Regions from separate parts of the Homo sapiens genome. Here region 1 is linked to region 2. The links come from fine-mapping of genetic effects on plasma protein levels. Region 2 holds a variant in brackets. A gene starts in the other region. All regions are shown on their reverse strands.

Region 1 (2,938 bases), not on the chromosome of region 2:
TTCCATGGTACAGGCCGGGCGAAGGACCCTTTAAAGGGGAATGCGGAGACTGCCGGCGGCTTTGGCTCCGCGACGGGGCCCCCGAATGATGCTGCAGAATCCGCCACGGCCGCTGGGTGCCGGTGGCGCGGGCAGGTGGCGCGGCACGTCCCACCTGGGGAGTAGCCGAGGCCGCCCCAGGGGGAGACAGTGAGGGCCGAGGCGACCGAGGGCACTATCTGCGCTGCTCACCCGGGCTCCGGCGCCTCACGCCCGCCGGCGGCGCCTGGGTCCAGGCTCCTGCTACCGCCGGGGACTGAGCGCGTAGAGCGCGAGCGAAGCAGCCAGCGAGGCTCCTGCTCCAACCCAATTCCGGGAGCCGCCGCCGCCGCCTCTGCTACTGCTGGCGAAGTGACGTGAGGGCTGACGCAGAGCAGGGGCAGAAACTCCAGAAAATTAGTCTGAAATCCAAAAACACACACACGCTCATACACACACAAACCCATAACACCCTCCAGACAAAAGCACCAGGGAGGGGAGGGGAATCTGGGGGCGAGCAGGGAGGAGGGAGGCATCGGTGCCACTGGCCAGAAGCAGACAGCAGCAGCATGTGGGAGTTCACACACGCGCGCACACACGCACACATCCTGGCCGTGTAGACATGCACGCGCGTGCGTGTGTGTGTCTGTGTGTGTGTGTGCATTTACATCCAGGTACCTCTAAGATGAACCGTTCCTCCGTTCGACGCCTCCCGGTCCCTAATTCACACCACAGTCTCTTCTACAATCGCGGTAGAGGCTGTCTCCCTTTTTGAAATGGAAACCGTGCTTGGTTCAGCTCTGAAAAATGCGCTGATTCTTATTATAGGAATCCTCCCTCCCTTCTCCCTCCCCGCGTTCTCCTTTCCCACCCTGCCTAAAAGGGAGGGCAAGCTATCCTAAAAATAAATAAATGTTGTAAACACCAAAACGTGTTCTGCATTGGTAACCAAGGATCACCGCCCCCATTCCGGGCCACCTATTTGGGGATCGGTGGTTTTGGAGGGGCTTCCTGTTGGTGCTTTTGCAGAGGGAAGGGAGTCTCCAAACACAATTCTAGCTCTCTAAGTGGGTCTTTTTCCTGCCGTTTTCTGCCATCACACGCCCGGGAAATAGAGACATGTGAGGGGAAGGGAGCGCGCCTGATGCGTATTCTAAATGCTCGGTGGCCACCCTGGCCTGTCCGATGTGTGGCGCCGCGTCATTTTCTCTCATCCTTTAACCTGACGGGATGTAGCCATTCCCAGATCGTGGATTCACTCCCCGCGATGCCCACCCCCACGTAGGGCATCCCAAGCCCTTGCTCCCCTGCCGTACCTTGCGCGTGTTCATGTGTGCTAGGGTGTGCGCGAACGCGTGCCCTGCGCCCGCGCTGCCCGGAGCACGATATGCATCCAGCTACGAAGAAGCCAGGCGCGGGCAGAGCCTCGGGGTCTCACTAGGGACAAATTAGGCGATCCGGGAGGGTCGGGTGACAAACCGTAACTATTCTGCGGGTGCAGTTAAATGATGGCTGCGGGGCATTTGCAAGCCTTGTCTGAGAATCCGTCTTCCCTTTTGCGGCTCGGAATCTGTTTTTCCGCAGTCATTTAAAAGAGAACGGGGAAAATACACCGCAGTGCCTGACACTTCCGAGGGCTCTGGTGCCCCCGCGCGGGGAGAGAGCGCCCGGCACGCTCCGGAGCACCAGCCCATGGCCCGGGTCGCGGCGGGCACAGCGCTGGGGGCGCGCTCTGGCGCCAGATGCGCAACCAGCGGCGCCCGACGCCTGCGCGTCCCTGCCCGGCCGGTGCGCGGCTCTCCTGGCCTCGCCGAGCTCCTGCCCGGGGGAAAAAGGCGGGCAATCCTTCTCTCTCGAGAGAGCAATGGGTTGGAGTCTCGTTCAAAATATAGTAATAGTCACTGATCTACCCGCAGAGTTTGGGGATGGGAAGGATCAAGAAACCGAACGTTAGAGTGAATGCTCGGATCTAGGCCAAGCGTTAAATATTACGAAGGGAACGTAAAACATCTATTGGGGCTTTTTTGTACAGATCCTGGGCGCTGAGTGTAACCGCGGGAATTCTTGGACAGCACCCAAAAATCTTGCTGCAGGTCCCGAAAGCAAGGCCAGCAGGTCTATCTCACCACTGTCACTCGGCTGTAACACACATCGAGTGGTGAACGGCCAGGCTGAAGTTTACTCCTGAGCTGCGCCTCTATTCTCTACTAGGTGAGGACGCGCCAAGGAAGAGACGCCAAGGGCAAAAATGACCTGGTCTCAGACGCACGTAAAACTCCGCCTGTCTTGTCAGTGAACCTTAAGCGGAGAAGCCCCTGAGGAACACTTGGGGAAGGAAGGAGTGTGTGCGTAATCACCCACATTTCTCTCACACTCCCATACTCTGAGCCCATTTTTCTAAGAAACGGCCCATTTTCGCCCTAGTGGCTGCAGCATGTCAATGCGGTATGGAGAATAGGCAGTCTTACGGTGGTTTGTACACCAGAAGAGTCTAATTATGTTGGAATATTTGTAGAGTTTCTATTAGAGTAAATATATGCTACTATTATAGTTGGATTCTAAATATATTCCACTATCTCCCACTTAAAATTAGGATTTGCGGTCCTACTTCTAATCACCCTACTTCTGCTCTACTATTTCAACCATAGCAGTTTGTCCTTTGGACAGATAATTTACTTATTATATATATTTTTAAAATTTCTCCCAGAAGAATGTACACTCCATGAAGGCAGGGATTTTTATCTATTTTATTCATTGATATCTCTCAAGGACATAGTAGGTGTTAAAATATATGTGTATTTTTAATGAATAAATAAAATAAAATAAAGGAGATCTCACTTTCTTAACCTCTAAGTCTGCAAGAACCTGGATAATTCCCCCAGACACGCTCCTTCTCACCTTCACAATTTCAAATCTTCCT
Region 2 (2,500 bases):
TGCTCACTGCTCAGTCCACACTTGCTGCCTACCTTCCTGATACTGCCGCCAGATTTCTTCACCATCAGTTCATCAACCATGGACTGCAAGCAGATGCTCATCATGATAGCCTGAGGGCAAGAAGAGTGTCCAGCTTGATGAGAGTGGTCACTCTGAGCCCAGCACCACTAATGCCTCCCATATTGAGTACTGGAAACTCTACACTTTAAGGTGCTCCAGAGGAGGGCTGAGGGTAGGTTCACACCTGGGGGCTAGTGATGGTGACCCACTGTAGCCGGTCCTTGCTCATGAGGTATTCAAAAGCCAGTTCCAGGCGCACCTCACCCCGGCCCCGGCCTGGGCTGCTCGTGCTTCCACTGGGCAATGGTACCTGGGAGAGGAAGGGGAATTCGGTTGAGTTCACTCTGACCAACCTGTCTGGCTCCCTGACCCGCTGCAGCCCATACCTAAGCTCAAGGCTTGCCGGGCCCCCAACCCAGGCCCTTCCCCCTCCTAACCCGACTCACAGAGGAGGTGACCCGCCAGCATCGCATGCGGGTGACCCGGAAGGAGCCTTCTCGGAGTTGCTGGCCAGGCAGGCGGAGCTGCAGGCTGAGCTCACTGTTGCCCGCGCTCACCACCACAGGACAGTCCTTTTCTGGGAAGTCAGCCACACAGGCATCAAAGCGCAAGTAGCCATAGTGCCGCAGCGTCTGGGCCAGTCTCAGGAACTGAAAAATGGTCATCACATGGGGGTAGATTAGGAGGGAGAATGGGGCAGCTCAGAAAAAGCAACCCCGGTCGGGCGCGGTGGCTCATGCCTATAATCCCAGCACTTTAGGAGGCAGAGGCAGACAGATCACAAGGTCAGGAGCTCAAGACCATCCTGGCTAACATGGTGAAACCCTGTCTCTCCCAAAAATACAAAAAATTAGCCGGGCGTCGTGGCGGGTGCCTGTAGTCCCAGCTACTCGGGAGGCTGAGGCGGGAGAATGGCATGAATCTG[A/G]GAGGCAGAGCTTGCAGTGAGCCAAGATCGCGCCACTGCAAGCCCTTAGAGGAAGACAGAGAGGAGGCAGGGCTCACCTCCTTCTTGGAGACTTTCTCTTGCAGAGATTTGAGTTGCCGGTGCTGTTCCTTGGTGACCAAGATCCACCCACGCTCAATATCTGATACCGTCTATAGTAGAGACAAGGGGCAGGCAGTAGGAGGTCCCAGTCAGCAATCCAAGGAAAGCGTCTACCATTACCTCTGTCCAGCCTGACCCCTAGCCCCACACTTGAGCGACCTCTCTGCAGTAAGTCCTTGATCTTGTCAGCTTAATAAAAGTAGGGAGAGTAGATATTGTGCCAGCAGCACTGATAGTATTCTAGGAACTTCCCCACAAATTGGGAACAAAGACACGACAGCAGTTTTCTTGGGAGAGTGAGTCACCCGTTATTTTCTTCAGGGGAAGGGTTCTGAGGCAGCTCCAAGCTCACCTGAGCATAAAGCAGGTTCAGGCCAACCCGGTTCTCCATGACATCGTCATCATAGGCAGAGTCCCAATAACTGTGAGGCCAAGGGGTGGAAAGGGGTAATGGGGCTAAGCTGGGTTAAGGCAAGAGGTAGAATGGAAAATGGGCAAAACAGGAGCAATCTGGAACTATCAGGGGCTAATGGTATAGTGGGAGGAAGCTTGGGAGGCCTGGCAGAAACACCCAGCACTACACCCCCTTGTCCAGATTATTCTGTCTCAATATGTGGCCCAATAATCCAATCCAGCACAGCACCTCCCACCCCTCCCCTTCCAGGCCCAGCCCTGACCTCTTCCTTAGCACAATCTTATACTCTTGACTCCGAAGGCTGGTGACAGACACATAAGGCAGCTCAAACTCTTGCAACTTCCGTACAACTACAGGTTAAAAAAAAAAAAATGAAAATATAGTGAGATTTAAAGGAAGGGAAATCAAGAAAGAAGTGCCCTGAGGCAATGTTCATTCTGGGGGTGGGGGTGGGGAGTTAGGGGGGCTGCAAACTCTACTGAAGTACCCTTGTACTGCAGTCAAGTCCAGAGAAACTCACAAGAAAAGGCTCCATCCTCTTTTTCTCGAACTAAGAATAGACTAAAGTATCCAATCAAGTCATCTGGAAGATCCAGCTTTGCAGCTACAGCCTGGGGATAGGGATAGAAGTACAGCTCATCATACTGGCTGGTTCCAATCATTCTCCAAGCCCAGGACCCCAGGATGTAGGGGAAGAAGGGGCAGTGCTGAACAAGCGCCTCACCTCCAGGACATCCTCAGTCTGATCTGAAGTTAGCACGTTGACCAGAACTTTCTGCCCGTTGCTGAGCAGCACTTCCAAGGACACTTCCTCTGTGGGGACCTGCTGTGTCTCCTGTTGTGAGCACACATGGGGATGGGAAGCACTGCCTTGTCCCTTGCCTTGACCTATGCCCAACTCTATTTCTAGGTCCCTTGTGTGTCTTTATTCTCAGCTGCTTAAATATAGGCTGTGATTTCTTTGATTTCATAAGAATAGA

Which allele goes with the higher level. Alleles are on the strand shown, and positions count from the first base shown. The strength of an association depends on the size of the effect and on how common the allele is.
For the plasma level of the protein whose gene starts at base 391 in region 1, allele A in region 2 goes with a lower level than allele G (weak association).

Evidence for each region. PIP is the chance, under the fine-mapping model, that this variant and not a neighbour inherited with it causes the effect. Protein levels are from antibody-based Olink assays in UK Biobank. Linkage for the fine-mapping came from a reference panel and not from the study's own genotypes, which makes the PIPs less certain.
Region 1: NTRK2 starts here. The variant in region 2 is fine-mapped to the plasma level of the NTRK2 protein (UK Biobank, PIP 0.94).

Annotation. Positions count from the first base shown.
Region 1 is chr9:84,667,182-84,670,119 of GRCh38, reverse strand. NTRK2 (neurotrophic receptor tyrosine kinase 2) reads right to left here and starts at 391. Exons shown (of 19, transcript NM_006180.6): 1 at 232-391. RefSeq lists a silencer at 1,647-1,866.
Region 2 is chr2:27,373,716-27,376,215 of GRCh38, reverse strand. It overlaps SNX17 (sorting nexin 17), which reads right to left. Exons shown (of 15, transcript NM_014748.4): 5 at 2,245-2,355; 6 at 2,041-2,131; 7 at 1,783-1,870; 8 at 1,458-1,527; 9 at 1,063-1,155; 10 at 507-710; 11 at 245-370; 12 at 33-110. Among named protein-coding and RNA genes, the nearest start is that of SNX17, 4.4 kb to the right of the region's middle. The variant A/G (reference allele first, on the strand shown) is at 986.